Linked DNA regions of Homo sapiens: all the other regions are linked to region 1. The links come from fine-mapping of genetic effects on gene expression. A gene starts in region 1. Each other region holds a variant in brackets. All regions are shown on one strand. Distances are between the middles of the regions.

Region 1 (7,942 bases):
GTAAAACTACATAAAGATTTCAAAAAAAACTAGGTGACATTATTTGATATTTTTGAGCCAGCAAACTGGAAAACAGTGGGTTATGATCACAGCAGAATGTCTGAATCAGTGATTTGGAGGTGTGGTGACTTTTTTTTTTTTTTTGTACAATCTTGCTGTTTCCCAGGCTAGAGTGCAGTAGCGAAATCATAGCTCACTCAGTCTTGAACTCCTGGGCTCAAGGGATCCTCCTGAGTAGCTGGGACTATAGGCAAATGTCACCACACCCAACTAATTTTCCTATTTTTTTGTAGAAATGAGGTCTCGCTATGTTGCCCAGGCTGGTCTTGAACTCCTGGGCTCAAGGGATCCTCCACCTTGGACTCCCAAAGTGCTGGGATTACAGGCAAGAGCCAATGGGCCTGGCCTGGCTGGCAACTTTTTTGTTTTTTTTGAAATGGAGTCGCGCTCTGTCGCCCAGGCTGGAGTGCAGTGACACAATATCAGCTCACTGCAACCTCCACCTCCTGGGTTCAAGAGATTCTCCTGCCTCAGCCTCCTGAGTAGCAGAGACTACAGGTGCGCACCACCACGCCCAGCTAATTTTTGTATTTTTAGTAGAAACGGGTTTTCACCATGTTGGCCAGGCTGGTCTCAAACCCCTGACCTCAAGCGATCCGCCCGCCTCAGCCTCCCAAAGTGTTGGGATTACAGGCGTGAGCCACTGCACGCCCAGCCTGGGTGGTGGCTTTTTAGTAAAGACAAGATCCAGGGTGTGATTGTGTGACCAGGTGGCTAAAGAGAATGAAGAGGTAAAGGAATCAGAAGGCCAAAGTGTTAGCTGAACTGTCAATCCAGATGCTGAAGTTGCCTAAACGTGATGTGTTACTGCTGGATATTTTCCAGATCCACTTTTCCACCCTCCTCTATCATGTTTTCTGCTCCAATAGGCTGACCTGTATAGACTTTACCAACAGGTCACTGTGCCCCTGGCTTCCGGTTGGGTTTGGCCAATGGGGAATCCCAGCAAGAAATTAAGAGAACAGGGTCAGGATATTCATTCCTCCAGCTTCATTCTCTCAAGGTCACCTGAAACTAGCTATGTCCCTTCGGCTGAAAGTCACCATTCCTCTCAAGGCAGCCAACTCCATACTTTTCAAGTAACTATTCCCTCTTTTATGGGATGTTAACCGTTCAGCTATAGGTTACCAAACTATTTCTTGTCACACCACTATACCTAAATCTTTATAATAGTATCTTTATAAAATAAACTCAGATTATCCTGTCAAGTGTGCCATCTGTTCCTGTCTGGACTCTGACTATTAACTGTGATGGTGAAGATGATGTAAGGTTGTAATAGAGTATTGGAAAGTAAGGAGAGAAAAGTGACTAATACTTAAATAACAATTGCTAACATTTTAATCTCTATGTTCCAAGAACTTTTCTAACCTCTTCGTAGAATATTAACTCATTTAATCACAACTACCTTCTGTGGTAAGCAGAGATTTTTGTCTGGTTCATTTCCAAATCCAAACACCCAGCATAGTTGCTGGCACATGGTAAGCACTCAAATATTGATTTAAAATACACACAACAAGCAGGTTTAATTAGAAAGAGATTACTTTTTTAGTATAGTGTAGCACTTCTCCTAATTACACTTTAGAAAACTATACAAAGATCAGGGAATTGTTGACTCTCCAGAGATCACAGAAACACTAAATGAGACCATATGTGAATGATTTTCTTGTGTAGCCTACAGTGAGTCGTATTCCTTTATTTTCTGAAGAGGACTTGGGTGCCAGTTTTTTAGGTTTAATATTCAAAGTCAAAGTTGCAGCGGGGGGCGATGGCTCACATCTATAATCCCAGCACTTTGGGAGGCCGAGGCGGGCGGATCACCTGAGGTCGGAGTTAGAGACCAGCCTGGCCAACATGGCGAAACCCCGTTTCTACTAAAAAATACAAAAATTAGCTGGGTGTGGTGGCGTGTGCCTGTAATCCCAGCTACTCAGGAGGCTGAGACAGGAGAATCACTTGAACCTGGGAGGAGGAGGTTGCAGTGTGCCGAGATAGCACCACTGCACTCCTCCAGCCTGGGCAACAGAGCCAGACTCTGTCTCAAGAAAAAAAAAAAAAAATTAGTCGGGTGTCAGGGCAGGCACCTGTAATCCCAGCTACTCGGGAGGCTGAGGCAGGAGAATCTCTTGAACCCGGGAGGAGGAGGTTGCAGTGAGCTGAGATGGGACCACTGCACTCCAGCCTGGGCGACAAAGCGAGACTCTGTCTCAAAAAAAAAAAAAAAAAAAAGGCAAAGTTGCTCCATACCAAGACCAGATTTTTAAAAAGTCAAAGTTGCAAATTTTTAAATATTATGCACTTGCAGCCTAGGAGCTGATTTAATAAGGCAGAGCACCTTTAAGTATCAGTTATGAGTTAAAATAAAGGGAAGGGGGCCAAAAAAAATATGGTTGTGAGTATAAAATGCAAAAATAAAGGTAAAGGTGAGTATTTTGTCAGCCTGTAAAAAAAGCCTCTTTAGTTTTCAAAGTACTTAATTTTTAAAGTACATCCTACATTAGAACCTAAGTCAGCCAGATAACCAAGAATACACATTTACACAGAAATGAAGCACAGCAAAGGTGTGAAAATTAGGGCAGGAAGCATAAAACATGAATCAAAGAATGCAGAAATACAACAGATATAAGCTACAATTAAATATCTCACCGGATGCACACACAGTTTTATATGGAATAATCAAAGCAGCAGTGATACCCATCTTATAAATAAAAATCTAAAAGCCAGAGAAATAACAAGGTTAGAGGATTAATATGAAACAAAATGAGAACTCCAAAGATTTTCTGAAAGCAGAATTACTGTTTTTTCTTCATATTATGTTGCCACTCCAAAGCAAGGGGAAAACTCGCATGAGTAAGAATCTAGAAACCTGAGAAGTTTCGAGAAGAACAGACTCAAACTGGAGTGAAAATAGGCAAAAAGAGTGAGGCATAAGGCTACGACTGGGAGCAAAATGCCAGATGCAAGTCTTGGACACGGAGGGGAGACGAATAAAGCCTTCTTAAGCGGAAGGTGGAGAAACACTGGGGTTGGATTTGGTGGGAGGAAGACAAAACGGAAAAGCACGGCCCAAGAAGCAACGGCAAAGGGAGAACTTAAACAAGATTAGATTGATGCCACAATCGAAGAGTATAAGACCTACAAATCAGATTCTGCCGGGTGGGGAAAGGGCCAGTTCGCGACCGATCAGGTGCGACTAGTTTCCCAAAAGCGGCAAAGATGTAGCTTCGCAGCCCCACCCCACGACAGCAGCTCCTCCCCAAGGAGGACCTCACGAGGTCAACTGCCGGGCTCAGGTTCTCCCCCGGAGCCTAGGTTCCACCCCGCCCCGGCCGTGCGGCACAGAACTGCCTCTCTGGGCCCCTCACCGAACGCTGCAGCTCCCCAAGCCAAAAAGAGGCGCGCTCCTTTCCGCTGGGATCTGGGTCGTGGTAAAGCGCCTGCACTGCCTGGTACACGAGCTGCAATGTCGGCTTTGCTCCTTCCATGGTGGTGGCGGTAGTGGCGGTAGCGACGGCTCTGATTCTTCTCCGGAGGATTCCTCGGTTGCTCCGCCTTCGCGCTTCCTCACTGTCTGGGCCACGGCCGCTCCCTGACTGGCGCCATCTCCTCCTCTTTGGCCGTTACCAGGGCAGAAGGCTCTCCGTGGAAGTTGCCCCCTCGGAAACAGCTATTAGGTCGTATTCAGGTTCCTGGCCTTTTTTCCGGTTTTTCCACTTGATTCTAGACTCTTGAGTCCACAGATTCTGGCGCTCCCGTCTTCAGTCGCTGACTTGCCCTCAGAAGCCTATCTTGGGAGGCCACACACCAGTGTACCTAAGGTTCGTTTACCCGGACCGGAAGCGACAGCACCGATACCTTTGGCACACTTCCGCCTGGTACACTACAAACGGCCTCCTTCCCGGCACGCCTCCTCTTGTCTCCCCGCCCCCTCCCGGAAGTAACCCTGCCGGGCCAGGAGCCGGGAAGAAGAGCCGGTGTTCTCTCTGTTCCTCGCTAGCAGCTTGGGACATTAGCGCCGAGATGTGCCCCATATCTGAGCTGCCTTCAGCTCCTTGGAAACGGATCCAGGTTTTTCCTACCCCTTCCGACTGCCCCATCCCTCTCCAGAGAATCCTTTTCTGCCCTGGTGATCAAGGCGCGTCAATTCAACTCTCCCTAGAGTGGCCACAGTACTGGAGATCCAAAGATGACTTAAGACATGGTACCTACGCTGGCTCTAGTGGAGGAGACAGACACGTAGTCAACTGAACTATTTTACAAACCTGAAATATGTGCCACATTGAGATAAATCCAAAATGCCTAGAATCTTTGTTCAGCTCCCCTTTACTTAGTTCTTAAGCCCAAAAGAGGTCTTCATTCTGCTTACAGCTCCTGGTGCTCTAACTCCAGAGCATTTTGCATACATCTTTAGGGTTATTCTCACATTGAACTGTATTTTTGTGAATGCCTTTCTGTCCGAATCCAATACCAGTGGTCTAACAATTCACAAAAGAAAACAGAAATATTGGAAACTGTACTATGGAGAAATTAGGGACAAAAGGTAACAGTATATTGATATTAACATTGCTGCTAGTCCTTTGCACTAGTAAATAACTGCTATTTGATAAATGATCACAATGTGTAAAACACTGTAGTTACAAGATCTCATTTAATCCGCCTAACAACCTTGCCAAGTATTAATAAAACCCGTTTTAGGCGCTGACACTGACCTACAGCGCCTCAGCTCCAGCGCCATGGCGCCCTCCAGGAAGTTCTTCGTGGGGAGGAACTGGAAGATGAACGGGCGGAAGAAATGTCTGGGGGAGCTCATCGGCACTCAGAACGCGGCCACTGTGCCTGCCGACACCAAGGTGATTTGTGCTCTCGCCACTGCGTATAACGAGTTGGCCCGGCAGAAGCTAGCTCCCAAGATTGCTGTGGCTCCGCAGAACTGCTACAAAGTGACTAATGGGGCCTTTACTGGGGAGATCAGCCCTGGCATGGTCAAAGACTTAGGAGTCACGTGGGTGGTGTGGTCCTGGGGCACTCAGAAGGCGTGTCTTTGGGGAGTCAGATGAGCTGATTGGGCAGAAAAGTGGCCCATGCTCTGGCAGAGAGACTCGGAGTAATCGCCTGCATTGGGGAGAAGCTAGATGAAAGGGAAGCTGGCATCACTGAGAAGGTTGTTTTTGAGCAGACAAAGGTCATCGCAGATAATGTGAAGGACTGGAGCAAGGTCATCTTGGCCTATGATCCCGTGTGGGCCACTGGTACTGGCAAGACTGCAACACCCCAACAGGCCCAGGAGGTACACAAGAAGCTCCGAGGATGGCTTAAGTCCAACATCTCTGATGCAGTGGCTCAGAGCACTGGTATCATTTATGGAGGCTCTGTGACCAAGGCAACCTGCAAGGAGCTGGCCAGCCAGCCTGACGTGGCTGCCTTCCTCATGAGTGGTGTTTCCCTCAAGCCCGAATTCGTAGACATCATCAATGCCAAACAATGAGCCCCATCCGTCTTCCCTACCCTTCCTGCCAACCCAGGAACTAAGCAGCCCAGAAGCTGAGTGACTGCCCCTCCCCTGCACATGCTTCTGATGGTGTCATCTGCACCCTATTGTGGCCTCATCCAAACTGTATCTTCCTTTACTATGTATACCTTCACCGTGTAATGGTCGGGACCAGACCAATCCCTTCTCCACTTACTGTAATTGTTGGAACTAAATGTCACCAATGTGGCTTCTCCTTGGCTGAGAGGTGAAAGGGATGGAATTTGCTCCTGGGTCCCCTAGGCCCTAGTGAGGGGAGGAGAGAGAACCCATCCTCTCCCTTCTTACACTGTGAGGCCAAGCAGAAGCCAGGGGTGCTGCCCTCTCCCACGGTGCCAACGCCTTTGTGTGTTGTGTATGTGAGCCATCCCACATGTGAGGGAAATAAACCCCTGGCACTTAAAAAACAAACAAAAAAACGCATTTTAAAGAAAGAAAAATAGTAATGTAATTTGCCCAAGGATACAGTTCTTAAAGTTAGGATTTGAATCCAGATCAGTGTTGCTCCAAAACCTGTTAAATCACACAATCCCTATCATCTTGTGCATTCGTTTGCTTCTGAATTGTTAGTCAAGGAATTTTTAACTGCCAACAACATGATGAAAACAATGTTACTGCACAGAGTTGATACAATTTTAGACAGAAAAAAGAAACTTGATATTTTGGTTACCTAATCCATTCATTCATTAAAAAAAAATTTAGTGCTGGGCTTGGTGGCTCACAACTGTGTAATCCCGGCATTTTGGGAGGCCGAGGCAAGAGGATTACCTTTGAGGCCAGGAGTTCAAGACCATCCTGGGTAATGAAATGAGACTCCATCTCTACAAAAAAAAATGCAAAAAAATTAGCAGGGCATGGTGGTGGGTGCTTCTAATCCCAGCTACTCAGGAGGCTGAGGTGGGAGTATTGCTTTAGCCCAGGAGGTGGGGGTTGCAGTGAGCAGAGATTGTGCCACTGCACTCCAGCCTGGGAAACAGTGAGACCATATCTCAAAACAAATTTTTTTGTGTGTATCAAAGGACACTATCAAGAAAGTGAAGTAACAGTCCACAACATGGAAGGGAATGTGCAAATAACATATCTGATAACTGATTAGTATCCAGAGTATATAAAGAACTCTTACAATTCAACAATGAAAAGACAACTCAGTTTTTGGGTTTGTTTTGTGTGTGTGTGTGTGTGTGTGTGTGTTTTGTTTTTTTGTTTTGAGTTGGAGTCTTGCTCTGTTGCCCAGGCTAGAGTACAATGGCACAATCTCAGCTCACTGAAACCTCCACCTCCTGGGTTCAAGCGATTCTTGTACCTCATCCTCCCACGTAGTTGGGATTACAGGTGCCCACAACCATGCCTGGCTGATTTTTGTATTTTTAGTAGAAACAGGGCTTCACCACGTTGGCCAGGTTGGTCTCGAACTCCTGACCTCAAGTGATCCACCCGCCTCAGCCTTTCAAAGTGCTGGAATTACAGGCGTAAGCCACCATGTCTGGCCTCAGATAATTCAGTTTTTTAAATGGGCAGTGAATTTGAATAGACATTTCTTCCAAGAAGATATACAAATGCACATGAAAAGATGCTCATCATTAGCCCTCAGGGAAATACAAATCAAAACTGCAATGAGATACAACTTCACACCCACTAGAAAAACTAAAATTTAAAAAATGATAAATGCTGGTGAGAATGTGGACAAATCAGAACTCTCATGCACTATTCATGGGATTGTATCATGGTGCGGCCATGTTGAAAAAGTTTGGCAGCTCTTCAAAAAAATGTTAAACATAGAATTATCATATGAACCAGCAGTTCTACACTTAGGTATATACTCAAGAGAAATGATAACGTGTGTGCATACAAGCACTTGCACGTGCATATTCATAGCAGCATTATTCATAATAGACGGCAGAAACAGCCCCAATATCCGTCATTTGATGCATGGATAAACAAAGTGTGCTATATCCATACAATGAAAGGTTATTTGACCCTTAAAAGGAATGAAGTACAGATAGATGCTACAATATAGATAAACTTGAAAAATTATGCTAAGTGAAAGTGGCCAGACACAAAAGGCACATTAATTACGCGATTCTATTTACATAAAATGTTCAGAGTAGGCAAAATTCTAAATATAGACAGTAGATTGGTCATTTCCAGGGTTGGTTTTTTGTTTTGGGTTTTGTTTTTTTTTGTATTGATGGAAATAAATGCTCTGGAATTATTGACGATGTTCAGAAAAACCTCATGAATATATTAAAAACCACTGGCATATGTTTTTTATATGTTTTAAAAGGATGAGTTTTATGGCAATGTGAACTATATTTCAATAAAACTTATTTTTAAAAGTTCTATGGTTAGGAATTATTA
Region 2 (7,942 bases), 29 kb after region 1:
TACAAGTGTGAGTCACCTCGCCTGTTCTGTGTGTTAATTTATAAGGCAAAAATTTTAAAACTTCATCCAAAGGAATACAGAGCTAAGCAAAGAATTCTCAAAAAAGAAACACAAGATGGTGGTCACAAGTTTCCTCTGGGGAAGGATGCTGTAAATCAAGGAAAGTAGAAAGACATACTTTTACAGGATTATACACTTTTTACTATTTGAATCATTTATCATGCATGCATGTTACCTTTCCCTCCTGCAAAAAAAAAAAAAATTATATTGAAACACAAGAGGAACACAAGCCTTCCCCTCTTACATTCTGATGATTACAATTTTCCCCCTCTAATTACATTTGTACACTTCTATAAATGAGGCCAGCTAGGGAGAGCACCAAAATGTGCAGTGATCGGCCGGGCGCAGTGGCTCATGCCTGTAATCCCAGTACTTTGGGAGGCTGAGGCAGGCGGATCACCTGAGGTCAGGAGTTTGAGACCAGTCCGGCCAACATCATGAAACCCTGTCTCTACTAAAAATACAAAGATTAGCTAGGCGTGGTGGTGCAAGCCTGTAGTCCCAGATACTAGGGAGGCTGAGGCTGGAGAATTGCTTAAACCTGGGAAGCAGAGGTTGCAGCGAGCCGAGATGGTGCCTTTGCACTCCAGCCTGGATGACAAGAGCAAAACTCTGTCTCAAACAAACAAACAAAATGTGCAGTGATTACCTCTGAGCAATGGATTTGAAGGAGTTTTGTTTTGTTTGAAACAGGGTCTCACTCTGTCACCCAGGTTGGAGTGGAGCGGCACGATCACAGATCACTGCAGCCTCCACCTCCCTAGCTCAGGTGATACACCCACCTCAGCATCCCAAGTAGCTGGAACTACAGGCAAGCACCACCTGTAGCCAAGGCCAATTTTTGTATTTTTTGTAGAAGCAGGGTCTCAGTATGTTAATTTATAAGACAAATATTATGTTGCCCAGGCTGGTCTGGAACTCCTGGTCTCAAGCAATTCTCCTGCCTCGGCCTCCCAAAGTGCTGGGATTACAGGTGTGAGTCATTGTGCCCGGCCTTAAGGAGATTTTTACTTTCTTCTTATACTTTTCTATTTTTCTCTACCAGCATATATGATATTTATGTTTTTAAAAGCTATTTTCATTGTGGAAAAAAAAGAGAACATATTAGGGGGAAAACCACAAGCTCACAGAGGACAAAAACCATGTTTTAGTGCCTCTGGGTACTGTAAACTATCTGACATGGTACAGGTGCTGAGTATTCTACCAACTAAGACATTTTGCTTGAAAGTTATAGACAAGGTCCATCCTGGCTAACACGGTGAAACCTCGTCTCTACTAAAAAATACAAAAAAATTAGCCGGGCATGGTGGCGGGTGCCTGTAGTCCCAGCTACTTGGGATGCTGAGGCAGGAGAATGGCGTGAACCCGGGAGGCGGAGCTTGCGGTGAGCAGAGATCGCGCCACTGCACTCCAGCCTGGGCGACAGAGCGAGAATCCGTCTCAAAAAAAAAAAAAAAAAAAAAAAGTTGTAAACAAGGTGTAATTATAATGGATATTGATCGTATTTCTTTATATTAAACTCTGAATACCACAGGTGTTCACAGAATAATAATCTACTTTAGAAAGGAGTTTTACCATTTGCATTAAAAGCTTTAAGGCGAGCAAGACAGCTATGAGTTTGCTCCACTTTACAAATGAATGAGGAAACTGAGGTTTAAAGGTAGTTACTGGCAATAACAGAATTTAGACCAGTTTCTTGATACCAAACCTAATATATATTCCAAGACACTCCCACTGTCTCTTCCCAGTTCTCAAAGAACTATAATAAAATGAAAATAGCTAACTCTGACACTGTTTTCAACATATTCTTCGAACCAGCAGAGAGCTGATTGATGTCATCTAAGGGAAGTGGTTTGGAGCTGGAAAAGTCTCCTTCAGGGCAATCACCTTTTTTTTTTTTTTTTTTTTTTTTGAGATGGAGTCTGCTCTGTCGCCAGGCTGGAGTGCAGTGGCGTGATCTTGGCTCACTGCAATCTCCGCCTCCCAGGTTCAAGCGATTCCCCTGCCTCAGCCTCCCGAGTAGCTGGTACTACAGGTGCGTACCACCATACCCAGCTAATTTTTTATATTTTTAGTAGAGATGGGGTTCCACCATGTTGGCCAGGATGGTCTAGATTTCCTGACCTCGTGATCCACCCACCTCGGCCTCCCAAAGTGCTGGGATTACAGGCGTGAGCCACTGCGCCTGGCCAGGCAATCACACTTTTCAGGATCAGAACTTCCACCCTGAAGGACCACAGGTTCACCCCTGGCAATACACAGCGAGGACCAGACTCTGAGAACAGACTCACATTGGAAAAGGGACATAGGAGGCTGAGGGAGACGCCGGGCTGCCAATTCACTCATTGACCATGATAATTGGGACTGTTACAGGGTCAGCTACTTCTCCCCTACAAGTCTCTCTCTGCAGCATATTCTCTCTGGTCGGTAGGTCGCCATGAAAATGAGAAAGTTGACTGCCAAGTGGCCATGGAAAACACATGGAAATTAGACGAAGCCCCAGGGTTCAGTGGTAACAGGTGAGGCTAAGATAGCCTAGGCCAGTCATCCTATAATAGAGGTGGTCTCACCAACAGGTTACTTACTGCAGAGTACTCACATCCCATTGGTTACAACCTCCTGCCTCCACATCTCCATTATAAGTTGTTTTGTCATTTAAAGGCTGTGATTTCCTTTGTGCCCAATACATGGATGGGCAATGCCTATGTCCACCTCCCAGAAGTGTCCTCTTCCAAGAATCCATGCTAAACAATGCCCCTTCTAACAAACAGATTTTTTTCAATCTTTTAATTTAAACAATCAAATCCTAGGAGCCAGGCTTTTTTGTCACATGCTAATTATATATTGATCTTATTATTAACTTTCTATGATTAGGACGGGCACGGTGGCTCACGCCTGTAATCCTAGCACTTTGGAAGGCCAAGACAGACCGATCACTTGAGGTCAGGAGTTCGAGACCAGCCTGAACAACATGGTGAAACCCTGTCTCTACTAAAAATACAAAAATTAGCCTGGCATGGTGGTGCACGCCTGTAGTCCCAGCTACTCGGGAGGCTGAGGCACAAGAAACACTTGAACCTGGCAGGTGGAGGTTTCAGTGAGCCAAGATCGAGCCACTGCACTCCAGGCTAGGTGACACAGCGAGACTCCATCTAAAAAAAAAAAAAAAAAAATGATTGCTAATTGCCCTCTGATGTAATAATTCCCCTTCCTCTTCTTTTTTTTTTTTTTTTTTTTTGAGACGGAGTCTCACTCTGTTGCCCAGGCTGGAGTGCAGTGGCGCAATCTCAGCTCACTGCAACCTCCACCTCCAGGGTTCAAGCGATTCTCCTGTCTCAGCCTCCCAAGTAGCTGGGACTACAGGCCTGCACCACCACACCCAGCTAACCTTTTTTGTATTTTAATAGAGACGGGGTTTCATCATGTTGGCCAGGATGGTCTCATGACCTCGTGATCCACCCACCTTGGCCTCCCAAAGTGCTGGGATTATAGGCATGAGCTACCTCGTCCAGCCGGTGTTTTAGGTTTTTTCTGTTATTATCAAACTGAATTCTAACTAATATTCATGATAATTTTATTCCTCTTACTTTTAAGTTCTTGTGGTCCCAAAGTACAATAGTAAATTTAAGATTCTAGGCTGGATGTGGTGGCTCACACCTGTAATCTTAGCACTTTGGGAGGCCAAGGTGGGAGGGTCACTTGAGCCCAGGAGTTTGAGACCAGCCTGGGCAACATAGCAAGACTTCATTTCTATTAAAAAAAAGAAAAAAGAAAGATTCTGGAATGCTTCAGACTCCGTGTTATACAAGCTTTCTGACAGTGTGATGAATCAGGGAGGAGTGAGTTAACAAATTTCTGACCAGACAACTGACCGGAAAAAACAGCTTGTGGAGTGCTCAGTATATCATTTCATTCCTCAGGTTCACGTAACAAATGTTCAGAAGCTCAGAGCATATTTCATTCCCATGCGATTAATCTTACCCCCTGCACTACTTTTGTATCTCCCCTTAGTAACAGGTTCACCCTACCTTCAATGTCTACAGGAGCTACGGAAAGAAATGCAGAACGAAGATAAATCACCCACCAGAATTGTTAGCAAGAGAAGTGCTGGCAGCAATAGGTCCTCTTACAAAGAAGAAACTTAGAATGAAGCTTTTCCCAAACAGCCTGAAAGGTTCTTTTATCCTCCATAAGTAGCTGCTCACCCAATTTTTGACAAATCCTCATTTTTGCTTCAAAAATAAATAGCAAACACTTACCTATATTTACCATATGCCAGGAACTGATCTAATCATCTTACATATATTATTATTATTGAACAGCAATTTAAATTAGGTTTTTTTTT[A/T]AAGGTGGTTATTTTTATTTTTTGCAATGCCATGGTTGTAGGAGTGTATGAAGAGGTAACACATCTCCTTTTCCTTGACTATGCTTTTTTTTTTTTTAACCTTCTGCACAAAGGTAAAGGTTTTTGTTAATCTCATAGTTAATGGTATAAAACAGAGGTCATGCCGGGCGCGGTGGCTCACGCCTGTAACCCCAGCACTTTGGGAAGCCTAGGTGGGTGGATCATGAGGTCAGGAGTTCAAGACCAGCCTGGCCAAGATGGTGAAAGCCCGTCTGTACTAAAAACTACAAAAAAAATTAGCTGGGTGCGGTGGCAGGTGCCTGTAATCCCAGCTACTCGGGAGGCTGAGGCAGGAGAATTGCTTGAACCTGGGCAGCAGAGGTTGCGGTGAGCCGAGATCACGCCATTGCACTCCAGCCTGGGCAACGAGAGTGAAACTCCGTCTCAAAATAAATAAATAAATAAATAAATAAATAAATTTTAAGGGATATGGTTTGGAGGGAGCTTTCAGGGTAAAAGTATAGTGACATGACAAAGGGGAGGTGACAGAATATTGTAGAGTCCTTTGTATTCTTTCAAAATAGCTTTACTGAGATATAATTGACATACAGTAAACTACATGTTTATAGTGTAATTGGATAAGATTTGACATACATATACACCCGTGAAACCATGACCACAGTCAAGATAATGAAAATAGGCCAGGCACGGTGGTTCACAGGAATCACTTGAACCCGGCAGGTGGAGGTTGCGGTGAGCTGAGATCATGCCACCGCACTCCAGCCTGGGCGATAGAGTGAGAGGCTGTCAAAAAAAAAAAAAAGATAATAAAAATAAATATCAGCCCCCAAAAGTTTCCTTGTGTCCTCCTGTGATCCCTTCTTCCTGGAAACTTCCCCCAAACTCTCTCCTCAACCCCCCATTGTCCCTTATCTGCTTTCTGTAATTATGGATTGGTTTATATTTTCTAGAATTTTATAGGAATACAATCGTACAATATTTATTCTTTTATTTCCAGTTAACATAGCTTTTATTCAAAAGTCCTTACTCTTGTCTGGTTTATTTCACTTGGTCTAATTATTTTAAGATCTATCCACATTACTGCATGTACTTTAAGTGGGTGAGTCGTACGCTATTTGAATTATCTCTCAATAAAGCTGTTACTAAAAACAAACCACAATGAGATATCACTGCGCACCCATTCGGATGACAAAAATTTAAAAAACAGACAAAAGCAACTGTTAGTGAGGGTAGGGAGAAATTGGAACTCTCATACCCTGCTAGTGAGTGGACTTGTATAATGATGCAGCCACTTTGGAAAACAGTCTGGCAGTTTCTCAAACATTTAAACATAGAGGTATCTTTTGACCCCAAAATTTCACTCCTAAGTGTATATACCCAAGAGAAATGAGAAAATGTGTCTACACAAAAGCCAGTATATGAATGTTCATAGCAGCATTATTCCTTATTTATTATTATACATTTTTTTGAGGTGGAGTCTTGCTCTGTCGCCAGGCTGGAGTTCAGTGGCGTGATCTTGGCTCACTGCAGCCTCCGCCTCCTGGGTTCAAGTGATTCCCCTGCCTTAGCCTCCCAAGTAGCTGGGATTATAGGCATGCGCCACCACGCCTGGCTAATTTTTTGTATTTTTAGTATAGATGGGGTTTCACCATGTTGGCCAGGATGGTCTCCATCTCCTGACCTCGTGATCCGCCCACCTCGGCCTCCCAAAGTGCTGGGATTACAGGCGTAAGCCACTGCGCCCAGCCTATTATTATTATTTTTTGAGACGGAGTCTCGCTCTGTCACCCAGGCTGGAATGCAGTGGCGCGATCTCGGCTCACTGCAACCTCTGCCTCCTGGGTTCAAGTGATTCTCCTGCCTCAGCCTCCAGAGTAGCTAGGATTACAGGTGCCCACCACCACACCCAGCTAATTTTTGTATTTTGTTTAGTAGAGACAGGGTTTTACCATGTTGGCCAGGCTGGTCTCAAACTTCTGACCTCAAATGATCTGCCTGCCTTGGCCTCCCAGAGTGCTGGGATTACAGATGTGAGGCACGGCAGCTGGCCAATGGCAGCATTATTTATAATAGTCAACATGTGAAAAGAACTCCAATGTCCACCAACTGAGGAATGGATAAACAAAATGTGGTCTATCCATACAGTGAAATATTATTCAGCCATAAAAGGGAATGAAGCACTGATACGCGCCACAACACAGATTAACCTTGAAAACATTCAGCTAAGTGAAAGAAGCCAAACACACACATACCAACCCCACATATTGTATGATTCCATTTTTATTTATTTTTATTTTTATTTTTTATTTTTTCAGACAGGGTGTCACTGTCACCCAGGTTGGAGTGCAGTGGCACAATCTCAGCTCACTGCAACCTCCACCTCCCGGGTTCAAGCAATTTTTCTGCCTCAGCCTCCCAAGGAGTTGGGATCACAGGCATGCGCCACCACACCCAGCTAATTTTTGTATTTTTAGTGGAGATGGGGTTTCGCCATGTTGGCCAGGCTGGGCTTGAACTCCTGGCCTCAAGTGATCCGCCCACTTTGGCCTCCCAAAGTGCTGGGATTATAGGTGTGAGCCACCATGCCCAGCCTGATTCCATTTTTATGTGAAATGTCCAGAATTGGCAAATAGAGACAGAAAGTAGATTAGTGGTTGCCCAGGTCAGAGTGAGGGTGGCTGGGGGCAATGAAGGTGACTGCTAAAGGGTACAGAATTTCTTTGTGGGGTAATACAAATATTCTCAAATTGATTGTGATGGTGTTTGCACAACCCGTACATATACTAAAAACTACAAAATTACATATTTAAAATGGCTAATTTTTACCTATGTGAATTATATCTCAATAAAGCTGTTACTGAAAAAATGTTCACTTACTGAGGTCATTCCATTATATGAATATACTTCAGTTTGTCTAGCCATTCATTTATTGAGTCATTGGATTGGCTCCTATTTTTGGCTACTAAAAATAAAGCTGCAGACCAGTGAAGTACTCACACCTGTAATCCCAGCACTTTGGGAGGCCAAGATGGGAAGATGGCTTGAGGCCAGAAATTCGAGACCAGCCTGGGCAATATAGCAAGACCCCATCTCTACAAAAAATTTAAAAATTAGCCCAGCATGGTGGCTTGCACCTGTAATCCCAGCTACACAGGAGGCTGAGGTGGGAAGATCACTTAAGCCCAGGATTTTGAGGCTGCAGTGAGCTACGATCATGCCACTGTACTCCAACCTGAGCAACAGAGCGAGACACTATCTCTAAAAAAAATAAAATTCGGCCGGGCGCGGTGGCTCACGCCTGTAATCCCAGCACTTTGGGAGGCCGAGGCGGGCGGATCACAAGGTCAGGAGATCGAGACCATCCCGGCTAAAACGGTGAAACCCCGTCTCTACTAAAAATACAAAAAATTAGCCGGGCGTAGTGGCGGGCGCCTGTAGTCCCAGCTACTTGGGAGGCTGAGGCAGGAGAATGGCGTGAACCCGGGAGGCGGAGCTTGCAGTGAGCCGAGATCCCGC
Region 3 (7,942 bases), 130 kb before region 1:
TGGGGGGCGGTCCTGAGACTCAGAAGCCCCTTTGGCCCCTGCTCCTGTGATCTTGATTTGTGGCTGCAGAATTCAGACCCCCAACAGACAAACCTGTTGGCGTTGAGCAGCCTGGGGGCTGGGTGAGGAGGGCGTATAGCCTACACCTGCCAAGGGCCCTATGCTTTGGAGCAGCTCAGCACCTGTCAGCTATTCTCTTGACTCCGTTAGTAGTCAGGCCCTGAATTGCCAATATTTGCCTTCCCCGGCTGGCTGGCCAGAGGAGACATTATCTCTCAGGAGCTTGGGTCAAGACTAGCCAAGGGTCCTCTGGACAACAGCCTGTCCTCACAGCACCATAAGTCCCACCCCACTGTTTAGAGGGAAACAGGACCTTAGACAGCAGCCGAGGCCATGGAATGGCAGCTGCTGCTGCTAAGTAATATGAAGTAGGAGCGTCCAATGCAAGGGGGTAGTTAGAGGCCAGTGGATCAAAACCGCAGCTGGGGCCCTCCCAGGGCACCAGATGTCCTGGCACCCAGTGGTGATCTCAGGGCGCTCCCCTTTTTTGTAACAGCTTTATTGAGATATAAGTCACATACCATACAATTTACCCATCTAAAGTATACAATTTAATAGTTTAGGCTGGGCATAGTGGCTCATGCCTGTAATCCCAGCACTTTGGGAGGCTGAGGCGGGAGGATTACTTAAATTCAGGAGTTTGAGATCAGCCTGGGCAACATAACAAGACCCTGTCTCTACAAAAAAAGATAAATAAAACATTAGCCAGGCATAGTGGCACATGCCTGTAGTCCCAGCTACTTGGGAGGTTGAGGTAGGAGGATTGCTTGAGCCTGGGAGGTTGAGGCTGCAGTGAGCCATGATTGTACCACTGCACTCCAGCCTGGGTGACAAAGCGAGACCCTGACTCAAAAAAAAAAAGAAAAAATTCAATATATTCACAGAGTTGTGCAACCATCACCACAATCAATTTTAGAAAATTTCATCACCCCGAAAAGAAATCCTGTACCCTATCCTCTCCCAAAGCAAACCACAAATTTACATTTTTTTTTCTCTGTGGATTTGCCTATTCTGAACATTGTATTTAAACAGGATCATACAATATGTGGTCTTTCGTGTCCGACTTCTTTCATGTAGCATGTTTTCAAGGCTCGCCTAAGTTGTAGCATGTAGCAGTACTTCATTCCTTTTTATTGACAAATAATATTCCATTGCATTTATATACCATATTTTATCCATTCATCAGTTGATAGACATTTGGGTTGTTTCTCCTTTTTGGCTGTTATGAAGAATACTGCTTAAACATTCATATACAAAGTTTGTGTGGACATGTGCTTTCATCTGTAACAGGGAATAGAATTGTGGCATTATATGGTAACTCTATGTTTAAGCTTTTTTTGTCTTTTTTTTTTAAACGGAGTGTTGCTCCATCACCCAGGCTGGAGTGCAGTGGCACGATCTCAGCTCACTGCAAACTCCACCTCCCAGATTCAAACAATTCTCCTGCCTCAGCCTCCCGAGTAGCTGGGATTACAGGAGTGTGCCACCACACCCGGCTAATTTTTGTATTTTGAGTAAAGACGGGCTTTCACCATGTTGGCCAGGCTGGTCTCAAACTACTGACCTTAAGTGATCTGACTACTTCGGCCTTCCAAAGTGCTGGGATTACAGGCATGAGCCACCACGCCCGACCTCTATGTTTAAGCTTTTGAGGAACTGCCAGACTGTTTTCCAAAGTGGCTGCACTATTGCACATTTCACACACAACAGCAGTAAGTGAGGGTTCCAATTTCTCCACATTCTTGACAATACTTCTTATTATCTGTCTTTTTTGTTATAGCCATCCTGTAAGTGTGAGTGGTATTTTACTGTGGTTTCGATTTACATTTTCCTAATGAGTAATGATGTTGAGCATCTTTTCATGTACTCATTAGACACATATATTTTAATTGGAGAAGCATCTATTCAGATCCTTTGCCTACTTTTAAACTGAGCTATTTGTCTTTTTGTCTTTTTATTATTCAATTGTAACAGTTATTTATATATTCTAGATACAAGTTGCTTATCAGGCATATGGTTAGCAAATATTTTCTCCCATTCTGTCGGTTGTCTTTTCACTTTTTTTGATGGTGTCCTTTGCAGCACAAAAGTTTTTAATTTTGATGAAATCCAATTTATGTTTTATTCTTTGTTGCTTGTGCTTTTGGTGTCATTTTAAAGGAATCATTATCTGATCTAAGGTTAGGAAGATTTATCCTTATATTTACTTATAGGAGTTTTATAGTATTAGCTCTTCTATATAGGTCTTTGATCCATTTTAGTTAATTTTTATATATTGTGTGAAGTATGGCTCTGATGTTAGTTGCATGTATGTTTATAATTATCACATCTTCCTGATGGATTACACTTTTATCATTGTAAAATGTCCCTCTTTATCTTCAGTAATTAAAAAAATTTTAAATCTACTCTGTCTGACAGTAATACAGCCCCACCAGTTTTCTTATGGTTGCTGTTTGCTATATATATATGTAGGAAATAATATATATATATGAAATACATTGGAAATCAAACAAACCAGAGTAATTAACATTTTTAATTAAAGTGGATAACGATAAATCAACATTCTGTATTTTAAAAAGTAAATCATTCAAAAACTTTGGTGGTTTATTGCTGTAAGAAATTCGTTGCAAGACATTTCAGAACTGATCAGGACAAACCTCTGGGCATCAGCATAGTCACTGTGAACTACTAGTTTAGGGTAGAGTTTCTGTCTCTGCTCTACTCATCTGCCTGGAAGTTTGACTAATAAACTTCTGAGCCCCTTCATCATCATATATATATATATATATATAATTTTTAATAATTTTAATTTTTTATTTCTCTTACATTTCCCCTTGTTTATTCACAAGAATTATATATAATTAACATGTTTGTCTAAATAAATTCAAAAGGCCATTTAAATAGAAAAGTTAAAACACAGATAAAAATATTGTATTGGTTTATTTGGCAGTTTTTTTTCTTAGTGGTACATAATATTTGCATAATTACAATTGGTGACATGATGAAACATGATACAATAAATTTAAATTAATATGAAATAGTATGATACAACATTAGGACAACAGATGCCATATGACTCTGATAATACCTCCATTTACTTTCCTAAAGTTTTGCAAAAATTTTACGCTTGGTTATCACTTCAAAAGAATGGGCAAAATCTTAATGCATGGCTTCCTACCACAGCACGTCCTCCTGACTCTTGGTATCTAACTCCTTGGAGACCAGTTTTGGGGCTTCACTCTTCACCCTCCAGGGATCTATTACTTCCTTGTTAGTGCTCCTGATCAGTGTGCTGGCTCTCTCGCTCCAAAATCTATTGATCAATTGCAGGTCATTCAAGGGCTGTTCAAAGTGGAGGGGAAATATTACTTTTCAGCTTGAGTTTTGGATGCATATTTGGTTTTAGCTTTTTTTTTTTTTTTTTTTTTTTTTTGAGACAGTCTCACTCTGCCACCCAGGCTGGAGTGCAGTGGCGTGATCTCAGCCTCCTGGGTTCAAGCAATTCTTGTGCCTCAGCCTCCTGAGTAGCTGGGATTACAGGTGTGTGCCACCACGATGGTAGATATCCATTTTTTTCTACCCTCTTATTAAATCTATTTACATCTTTAAATCTAAAGTGTGCCTCCTGTAAACAGCATATTGTTGGATCTTGTTTTTATTTTGTGTGTTTTTAAATTAATTTATTTTTATTTTATTGTTATTTTTTGGAGATAAGATGTCTTTCTTTGTTGTCCAGGCTGGAGTGCTGTGGTTCA[T/A]CACGTTAGCCGTAACCTTGAACTCCTGGGCTCAAGCGATCCTCCCACTACCGCCTCCTGAGTAGCTAGGACTTACAGGTGTGTGCCACCATGCCAGGCTAATTTTTATTTCATTTTATTTTTTGTAGTGTCGGGGTCTCTTTTTGTTACCCAGGCTGAAACTCCTGGCCTCAAGCAATCCTCCTGCCTTGGACTCCCAAAGTATTGGGATTATAGGCATAAGCCACCGCAACTGGACAGATCTTATTTTTAAATTGGGTCTGACTATCTCTGCCTTTTGGTTGGATTGTTTAATCCAGTGGTGCCCAACCTTTTTGGCACCAGGGACTGGTTTCATGGAAGACAATTTTTCCACAGTGGAGGGTGGTGGTGGTGGGTGGTGGGGGGGTATGGTTTCGGGATGAAACTGTTCCACCTCAGATAATCAGGCATTAGATTCTCATAGCAGTGTGCAACCTAGATCCCTCTCATGTGCAGTTCACAATAGGGTTCCAGCTCCTATGAGAAAATGAGAATCTTTTTTTTTTTTTTTTGAGACAGAGTCTCACTTTGTCACCCAGGCTGGTGTGCAGAGGCAAGATCTTGGCTCATTGCAAACTCTGCCTCCTGGGTTCAAGCAATTCTCCTGCCTCAGCCTCCCGAGTAGCTGGGACTACAGGCACCCACCATCAGGCCCAGCTAATTTTTATATTTTTAGTAGAGATGGCGTTGTGCCATGTTGGCTAGGCTGGTCCCAACTCCTGACCTCAGGCGATCTGTCCGCCTTGGCCTCCCAAAGTGCTGGGATTACAGGTGTGAACCACTGCACCTGGCCTCCTATGAGAATCTAATGCCACCACAATCTGACAGGAGGTGGTTGCCTGCTGCTCACCTCCTGTTGTGAGGCCTGGTTCCTAAGAGGCCAGAGACGACTACCAGTCCATGGTGCAGGGGTTGGGGACCCCTGGTTTAATCCATTCACATTATCGATATACATAGTTGAATTTCCATCTGCCATTTTCTAAACATGTGATGTCTTTTTTGTTCCTCTATTTCTCCTTCAGTGCTTTTTTTTACATTAAGTGAATATTTCTAGTGGGACATTTTAATTCCTTTAATGATTTTTTTAACTACATTTTTTAGTGATTTTCATCATATTTGGTCTAGGGCTTACCTGTGGGCAGTGTACTACACTATCTTCCTGTCCCATCCAGGTAAGCTGTCCACAGCAAAGGTCCTGGGCGGAGGCCACAGCGGGAAAGTTGCCTGAAGAGCGATGCATGGCCTTGGACAAGGAAGCCCCAAGGAGGAGAACTGGGGCCTTGAGATGGCCATAGGTGGCCCCAGTGAGCAATACAGCGGCTGTAGCTTTGATGGGCATGTTTTTGGGCTGCACGGCCCTGGGAATCACCTCAGATTTATGAGTCAGAATAGATGTCCCGGCCCTAGGACAGGGGTCTGGGGTGAGGATTAAAGGGTGTGTCCTAGGGTCTGGGCACCACTGCTGTCTGGCTGCCCTGGCAACTGCCTCTGCCACCTCTGTCCCATGCCTTGAATGCCTCCCATCGTGAGCCCCTGAACTGTCCACACTCCTCTCTGCACCAGGGGCCAATAAGACTGTGGGGCAGGGCTCAGTGAGAATGGCAGCTGCCCCACCCTTCCCTTGCACATCCTAAAATGTGTCAAGGCCTGAGCTGGGACTGGCTAGCAGGCAGACAGGGGATGAAGGGCAGAGCAGGGGCATCTGATGTGGGGAGGCATCGGGAGTGGAGGCTGGTGAAATGCTCTGCCTTCTCTGGTCAGCTGAAGCCCTGCTGAGAAAGTACTGGGTCCCTATTGGAACCCACTCTCTGCACATCTGGAAATCTTTGGAAATAGACCAGAGACCAGGGTGCAGGTGTGCCATGGGACAAGGTGAAGACACAGGATCACCTACACACCAGAGTCCACCCAGTAGGACAGGGTGCCCTGCCACTCACTTAGACTTCCACAGGGGCCTGACTGAGGGCTTGAGGGGCCAGGGTTCAGCCCTTGGTTGGGGGTGGGGTGCATATTGGGAGGGAAGCTCTGCCCTTTCATCTTCACCCCAGGCCCCTGCCCCTCATCCCAGTGATGCTCAGCTTCCTGGCATCCACCACACAGTAGTGCAGGGTGCTGCCTGCCAAGCGCTGGTCCAAGGTAGAGGTGGGGGTACAGTGTCTGAGGATCCATGTGGGAGACCGCAGAGGAGAGGACCTGCCCTAGGCCTCTGACCTCCCACCCTGGCCCTCACCCCCAATCCCAGTGCTGGCTCCTGGATCCCAAAGGCTCAGAGCCCCTTGCAAGGTCTTCCCCCATGAGATCTGGGCCTCACTCCTTCTCCGCCTCTGCACCCTTGGACAGTCGAGGCTGGTGGGCCCACGTGGCCTCCACCAAACCCCTGAGTCTCCTGGGAGATATACCTGGAGCAAGAGGGGTGATTAACATACAGACCAGGACTTGCACTGGGGTATGCAGGTCAGAGAATGCACACGCACAGGTGTGCAGGTGCCCAGCTCAGCGTCAGGCCCTTCCCAGCCCTGCCAGGGGCCAGGGGGAAAGCACTCCCTCCCCCCATTAGCTGCCACCAGCCTGCCTCCCGGGGCACTCAGAACACGCACGGTCCCCGGGCCAGCTCTGCCCCTCCCACCAGGAGGTATGGGCAAGAGACAGGAGGGCGACAGAATGGAAGAAAAGGGATTTCTTCCCTCTGCCTGCAACGTTCCCAGGGCCACAGGTCCCAAAGGACGGCCCCTCTGAGGGTGGAGGTGGTTCCCAGCTGATGCTAGGCCTTGGATGCCTGGAAACTCCACAGTGGCTTTCAGAACCCTGTCTACACCTTTGCAAGTGTCCACTTCACTCAACTCTCCTCTGTCCAATATCACCTGTGTCCTGCCAGGATCCTCACCTGGAGCCACCTAGTTGGAGCGTGGGCTCTCGGCCTGGGTCCCTGGGGTAGCCAGGGAGCCTCCTGGACATCACCAAACCCCTGGAGACAGTGCTCAGTCTCCCAAGAGCTGTGGGGGAAGCAGAAGAGGGACTGGCAGGACAATTGGAGGATGGCCCAGAAGAGCCAGGCTGGAGGGAGGGAGGGAGAGTGGAGAGAAGACGGCACTACCTTGCCTCTTGGTGAAGGATGCTTCTTGGATCTGTTCTTTTTCTTTCTTTTCTATTTAAAAAAACATTACTTAGGGCCGGGTACAGTGGCTCATGCCTGTAATCCCAGCACTTTGGGAGGCCGAAGCAGGAGGATCATGAGGTCAGGAGATCAAGGCCATCCTGGCCAACATGGTGAAACCCCGTCTCTACTATAAATACAAACTTTAGCCAGGCATGGTGGTGGGTGCCTGTAGTCCCAGCTACTCGGGAGGCTGAGGCAGGAGAATTGCTTGAACCTGGGAAGCGGAGGCTGCAGTGAGCTGAGATTGTGCCACTGCACTCCAGCCTGGGTGACACGAGCAAGACTCTGTCTCAAAAAAAAAAAAAAGAAAAAAGAAAAAAAGAAAAAGGAAAAGAAAAGAAAAAAAGAAAATTACTTAAAATCTTTATTTTAGACACACTTGAAAGACTTCTTTAAAACAGTTAACATATATAAGTCTTTTGCTTAGGTACAAAGGAAAATACAAACCATATAAATTAGTTAAGCTTTTCCTAAAAAACTCCCTTTTTTTTTTTTTATACAGGTTTAAGTGATTCTCCTGCCTCAGCCTTCCAAGTAGGGTGGACTACAGGCACGCAACACCATGCCCGAGTAATTTTTTGTGTTTTTAGTAGAGACGGGTTTCACCATGTTGACCAGGCTCGTCTTAAACTCCTGACCTCGGGTGATCCACCTGCCTCAGCCTCCCAAAGTGCTGGGATTACCTGCATGAGCCACTGTGCCCAGCCAAAACTTCTTGACGTTGAGAGTTTGAATCTTCTGAATCATGAAACATTTTTAAATTTTTACATTTACATACAGTAAAATTCACTCTTTTTAGTGTACGGTTCTAGGAGTTTCGGCAAAGGTGGAGAGTTGTGTAAACACTGGCACAGTCAAGAGACAGAACCGTTCCCATCACTTCATGCCGTCCCTTAGTGGTCAGCCCTTCCCCACATCCGATCCCCTAATTTGTTCCCTGTTTCTTGAT
Region 4 (6,221 bases), 120 kb before region 1:
CTGCTGTGTGCCTTTGGGTAAACTGCCCCAACCTCCTGAGCTTGGCTGACTGTCCCCTGGTGCAGTCCTCTTGGGCTGTCCTATGGTCTGCTACTGCAAAGCAGAGCCTCCTTCGAGCCAGTGAAGAGGCACCATAAGCTCTTTCTTGCCTGAGCAGGCTGCCCTTTCTTCTTCCTAACTTCTCCTGCACCCCTACTCCCTAGCAACGGCCCTGGACAGGTTATCAGGGTATGTCAGTATCCCCATGGCTTTGGAGGTGCTGCTCCAGGAGAGAAAGGAGGAGGACAGGCCGGGAGACACAGAGGAGACCCGACCCTCGAGACAGGCATGGGTCGGTGGAGATGTTCCTGAATCCACAGGTCCACCGGCACACTCAGGGGCCCAGTCTGTCCGGCACAGGGGTCTGGATGGGCGTCAGAGTTCAGTTGGCTCCTGGCTTGGAGAATTGCAAAGCACCAAGGCTCCGGGACACTGGCCTAGTAAGAACCTGCCCCCAGAACCCTCTCTAATGAGGCCTGACACCCTCTTCTTCCCTGAGAGGGCTCAAGACAGGAGAGGGAGCCCTGGCCCATGGTCCCCGCCAGGGTTCTTCAGCCCCTAGGCTCTCCGCTTCCTTGAATTTCTGCTCCCAGAATCAGAGGCTACGGGAACAGGACAGACTCCTGGAGGGTGCCCCACCAAGAGCCCCCAAGGCCTGACCCATAGGGTCATAGTGTTGGCCCAGGGGTGAGCAGCTGGCAAGAGCCAAACACCAGGCCCTGCAACTCTGTGCAGCTGCCAGCCCCCAAGTGCTCCCTCTCCTTCCTGCCTCACACCTGAAATTCTCAACTTGCAACGCACCCCCACACCCTACCCGTCAGGGGCCAGAGAGGGACAGCCGGGATATGCCTCCTCATGGTTGAGTGTCGAGAGGCCACACGAGAGGAACGTCATACCCCACACCCCTCCCATGACCTAATACATCAGCGACTGCAGGCCAGAGAGTATTGGGGTCAGCCCTGGAGGGGTCCCCCACAGAGGGTAGCTCTGTCACCTCCCCACCACTCTGAGGAGAGCACCCCATGCCCTTGGGCTGGCCCTGCCATCCTGGAGAGAATCTAGTCTCTCCCCGTTTCCCATCTGAGCCCACCTGGGAGGGACCACCATCCTGCCCAGGAGCAGCCCTAGCCTTGGTTCTAAGCTGCAGAGGCTTGAGATGGATCTGGTTCAGAAATGCTTCAGAGTCTGAGGCTGGTGGCCCCCTTTACCCCACATCAAAGACGGGTGGACCTCGTGGGCCTGGCTGGGACATCTGCAGATGCTGAGCTTCAACAAGGCTCATTCTGGGACAAAAGTGCATACCGGAGGTCTTTGGCTGGTGCCTGTGGGGCTGGATTGGCATCTGTCCCCACAAAGCAGTGGCCCTAGAAGGCTGGGGTCTCCAGCTAGACTTTGTCCTTTTCCCTTTCCTCCTTGTCCAGGTGCCTCATGCTCCACAGCGAGCCCTCGAGACATGCAGGAAGGATGGATGTCCCACCCCTTCCGTAACAGAGCCCAGGAGCAGGGAAGGAAGTGGTTTGAGCACAGTGCTGAGCTAAGCAAGTTTTAGAAGCACTGAATCAGACCACGTGCAGCCAGTAGGGGAGGAGAGAAACTCTGGGCCGGTGTCCTGGAGGCCCGCGGGGGACAGGGGCACAGAGGCGCAGACTCAGGATGCTGAGCTGGGAGAGGAATCCCGGAGGAAAGTGAGAGGGCTTCAGCACGTTTATTTAAAGGGGATGGTGAGAAATCTAGGAAAGAGTGAAATCCCAAGATCTGAGGGTTTAAGTGAGAGAGGTAGGTAGAGACTGGAGTTTTGGGGGAGTTCCCGTGGGTTTCAGGGCTTGCTTGAGCTGTGGATCCAAGGCCTGGAGGACAGGGTGGGGCCAGAACAGATTCCACCGACAAGGGCAGGAGCCAGGTTGCAGGCATCAGAGAGGACAGGTGACCTGTCGGGGCCTGGAGCAAGGGCCCGGGCAGCTTCCTCCACAGGCCATGTGAAGACAGAGCCATGGATTGGGAAAGGTGGAGACTCCGAGTGTAGAGGTGTCCATGTAACAGTGCTGGCTGAATGGGGGACTTCCAGGTCACACCCCAAAAAGCTCTGAGCCGGTGTTAGTAAGAAATGGGGAGGAAGGCCCAGCTGTGGCGCCCTGGGCATTAATCCTAAAAAAAAAGATACTACTTCTATGTGCCAGAAACTTCAAAGCAAGTGAACACTTCAAGTACGAGAACCAGAGGTGTTTTTTTGTTTTTTCTTTTTTCTTTTGAGACGGAGTATCGCTCTGTCACCCAGGCTGGAGTGCAATGGTGCAATCTCGGCTCACTACAACCTCCGCCTTCTGGGTTCAAGCAATTTTCCTGCCTCAGCTTCCCGAGTAGCTGGGATTACAAGTATGAACCACCACGCCTGGCTAACTTTTGTATTTTTTTTTTTTTAGTAGAGACGGGGTTTCCCCATGTTGGCCAGGCTGGTCTCGATCTCCTGACCTCAGGTCATCCACCTGCCTCAGCCTCCCAAAGTGCTGGGATTACAGGCGTGAGCCACCCCACCCGGCCAAGAGGTGTTAAAATCTAAATCAGACTATGTCATGCCTCAGATCTGAACCTTTCAGTGACTGTCCCTAGCAAAGCCATAGCCTGTGAGGTGCCCCTCAAGGCCTCACCCGATTTCATTACTTGAGGATTTATCGTCTATCTTACTCTGCAGAATGGAAGCTCCAGGAGGGCAGGGGTTTTTAGACAAAGTAGAAATTGTCCACCACTTTATCCTGGCAGGTACAACATGCCCGATAAGCATTGTTGAATGTAGACTCACAGCCAATTCGTGACACTGGTGTCACCATTCTCCTTTACAGATGGGAAATGGGGCTTCTGGGGGAGTGAATGGCTTGCTTAGGTCACGCAATTCTAGATTGCAGAGTGAGGATTTGACTCAGACCTGTTGACCTCAGAGCCTGATGTCCAGCCAACAAGTTCTCAGAAACTCGGGGTTTCTGAGAAATAGGACAGTCAGCCTGGGGACCCCTGAGAGCCCAGGCCGAGGGGGTGGGTTTCCTGGGGTAGAGGTTTTGAGAGGCAAAGGCAGTTGTCATCAACCCAGGCTGCACTGAAGGGGGCTGTTCCAGAGCCAGGGTGCATTGTTCAGCTGCCCAGTGGGCCTCTGGGTTTCTTTCAGTTCCCTTTGGTGACACGGCTTCCCTCCTCCCCCCTGCTCCCCACCCCAGCCACCCCACTCTACACTCGCTCACACAGCGTAGCTTCTACTCGAGTCAGGGGAGGGTGCCTCCTACCACACCCTCAGTCTGTGATATTCCAGCCAGGGGAAATGGGGGAAGGGGCCATCTCACTGTGGGGAGTGGGGGGCC[C/T]GGACAGACCTCCCTGTCCCCACCGCCTCCTGGCCCATCAAGGGGAAATGGGAGTGCTCACACAAGGGCCGGGTGTGGCTTCACTTCCCCTCTACTTGCCCTTCCACCCCCAGGATGGCACTGGGAGGCCAAGGGATCCCAGATCCTGGAAACACTGGAGTGCTGCTCTCTGTCCTTCCTTTCTCCTGGGCCATGTCTCTGGCCCCAGATGATTCTTGGCTCAGGTTCTTTCAGTTGAGGGAAGTCAGGATCTGAGCCAAGCTGAGCCCCTGCATAGCCTCTATCCCGGGAGCCCCATATCAATGCTGCCGGCTTGGTAACATCATCCCCCTTTTAGAGACGAGGAAATGAGATTTGAGGTCCTACTTAAGGCCACTTGGCTGGAATACAGCAAAGCCAGGTGCAAGCCCCTTCTCTGCACGCAGCCCGTGCTGCTTCTTGAGGTTCAGAGGCTCTAAGGAAGGGGCCTCACCTGAGCAAGATGGACAGTGGGAAGGGGGCAGAGGGCAGAATTCTAGGGTCTCACGGTCCCTCAGAATGGGTGAGGAGTATTTGATAACAAAAGAAGGCTCTTCTTAGCTATTGCTCCAGATACGACCAGCATAGAATATTTTTCTATTAAGCATAACTGACCTCCAGTGAAAAAGGTTCCCATTTTGTGGGGAGCCACTTTTGAAATAGCAATTTCATTTTATTATTATTATTTTGAGATAAGATCTCACTTCTACGCCCAGGCTGGAGTGCGGTGGTGTGCCTCCTGGGTTCAAGCAATTCTCCCACCTCAGCCTCCCAAGTAGGTGGAACTATAGGTGTGTGTCACCACGCCAGGCTAATTTTTGTATTTTTTGTAGAGACAAGGTTTTGCCATATTGCCCAGGCTGGTCTCGAACTCTTGGACTCAAGTGATCTGCCTGCCTTAGCCTCTCAAAGTGTTGGGATTACAAATGTGAGCCACCGTGCCTGGCCTAGCAATTTCATTTTTAAAGAAAGAAATATAAAACGATCTACCCATTCACATTTTCCCCATCCATACTTTAAATTTTAAAAATATGAAATAATGAAATACTCAGCAGATACAAATAATAAAATACTTATATATAATGATATTTCGACTTCATATTAGGGCTTCAAAGGTCAGGAAAGAGGGAGAGATACAGAAGAGAAAAAAAAAAAACGTTAACACATGAGTGTCTTTTTTTAACTTGTTAAAGGTAAAGTTCAACCCAGGAGAAGGGAGGGGAGGGAAGGTCAAAGTTCTGATTCATCAACAAATACTACTTTATTTGTTAAAAATACAAGGCTCTGCTTGGCGCAGTGGCTCCCGCCTGTAATCCCAGCACTTTGGGAGGCCAAGGCGGGTGGATCGCCTGAGGTCAGGAGCTCGAGACCAGCCTGGCCAACATGGTGAAACCCCGTCTCTACTTGGGAGGCTGAGGCAGGAGAATCGCTTGAACTGGGGAGGCAGAGGTTGCAGTGAGCTGAGATCGCACTGCTGCACTCCAGCCCGGGTGACAGAGCAAGACTCCATATCAAAAAATAAAATAAAATAAAATGAACAATGAAAAGACAGGAGGGAGGTTCCTGAGTAAGCTGATTCGAGTGGAAATCAGACATCAAAATTGAAACCCGCTGAATTTTCCAAAAAGCCAGATGCTCATAGAACTGAAGCTTGAGACACTTACATCAGTACACCTGCTGCCTGTTGACCAATTCCTCTTCCTTGTCCCTCCTGTTTTCCTTCCCTGCTATATAAGCCCCTAACTTTAGTCAAGGGGAGGGATGGATTGGAGGTTTGTCTCCCCTCTCAACAGCTCACTGGCTGATGTCACCGGAATAAAGTCTTCCCTGGCAATACTCGCTGTCTCAGTGATAGGCTTTCTGTGCGGTGAGCAGCCAGACCTGGACCAAACCCCTGGCAATCCATAACAAAATCATAAGCAAAATCAACCAGGAAGCTATTTGCACCCTGGAACCCCACCTGGGAGGGGAAGTCAAGGCAGACTTTCCAGAGAAGGCGATGCTGAAAATTTCAGAAACAGAAATTTTGAAGAGCAAGAGTTACCAAGCGAAGAACATTCCATGAGAAGGAACAGGAGGTGTGTGAAGGTGGAGGTTCTGGGGTGAGGTTCTTTATGGAATCGAAAACGGTTCAGAACCACAGGTCGACGGTCAAGGTAGTAGTGAGAGGAGGTGGGACAGGCGACCACGCCGCTGCCCCTGGGATGACTGGAAGGCGACTTAGGGGAGCTGGGGCGAGACAGGTGCAGGGTTTGAGGATGAGAAAGGCACAGAGTGACTAGAGGATTCCCGCCTGCAAGCACATCTGGAAGGGGTGTCTGGATCCTGGGGGCAGCGACTGTGTTCTAGGGCGAGAGCCACCCTCGCCAGGGGTGTAGGCAGGCGAGAGGAGGGCCTGGAGCTGTGGGTCGGCCACACTGCGCCCTCATTTGTGTGCAGCCCCGGAGGACCAGAGTGGGGAAGCACCCCACCCTCTCCCAGGGCCCAACTGAGCACTGCAGCGGGAGGTACGGGGTTGTCAAATGACAGTTTTGCCATTCCAGATTGCCAAAAGAGCCAGTGGCCAGTCTAGGGCACCGCGCCGTCTGGCATCTCCCTGGAGGCCCTGGGCCTGGCCCGAGGCTCAGCCCGGATCTGCAGTTGCCAGGTCAGTGCGGGGCCCGGAGTGGATTCGCGGGGCGGGGCGGGGCACTGCCCGCGCCCGGAGCTCAGCAGCAGCTGCCCAGGGGCGGGGGCGGCAAGACGCGGAAGTGCCCGGCAGGTTGGCGGACCGGCGGGAGGCGCAGCCTGGGCAGAGCTCAGCTTGGTCCCGCCGCC

Alleles and levels. Alleles are on the strand shown, and positions count from the first base shown. SD is a standard deviation of normalised expression in the study named. Not every link is listed here.
For the expression in testis of the gene that starts at base 3,883 in region 1, T is the high allele of the variant in region 4 and C is the other (small effect, 0.27 SD a copy in GTEx).

What was found. PIP is the estimated chance that this variant, and not a neighbour inherited with it, causes the effect.
Region 2: its variant is fine-mapped to the expression of TNPO3 in whole blood (INTERVAL, PIP above 0.99).
Region 3: its variant is fine-mapped to the expression of TNPO3 in whole blood (INTERVAL, PIP 0.93).
Region 4: its variant is fine-mapped to the expression of TNPO3 in testis (GTEx, PIP 0.96).

The regions. Positions count from the first base shown.
Region 1 is chr7:129,051,229-129,059,170 of GRCh38, forward strand. TNPO3 (transportin 3) reads right to left here and starts at 3,883. Exons shown (of 23, transcript NM_012470.4): 1 at 3,423-3,883. The coding sequence starts at 3,542. It also overlaps the pseudogene TPI1P2. RefSeq lists enhancers at 3,416-3,915, 4,727-5,021 and a silencer at 4,727-5,021.
Region 2 is chr7:129,079,800-129,087,741 of GRCh38, forward strand. No RefSeq gene overlaps it. Among named protein-coding and RNA genes, the nearest start is that of TNPO3, 29 kb to the left of the region's middle. The variant A/T (reference allele first, on the strand shown) is at 4,406.
Region 3 is chr7:128,923,190-128,931,131 of GRCh38, forward strand. No RefSeq gene overlaps it. Among named protein-coding and RNA genes, the nearest start is that of IRF5, 11 kb to the right of the region's middle. RefSeq lists an enhancer at 6,064-6,564. The variant T/A (reference allele first, on the strand shown) is at 3,816.
Region 4 is chr7:128,931,784-128,938,004 of GRCh38, forward strand. It overlaps IRF5 (interferon regulatory factor 5), which reads left to right and starts at 6,144. Exons shown (of 9, transcript NM_001098629.3): 1 at 6,144-6,221. RefSeq lists enhancers at 1,866-2,035, 2,617-2,666, 2,937-3,056, 4,472-4,766 and silencers at 3,187-3,276, 6,011-6,221. The variant C/T (reference allele first, on the strand shown) is at 3,387.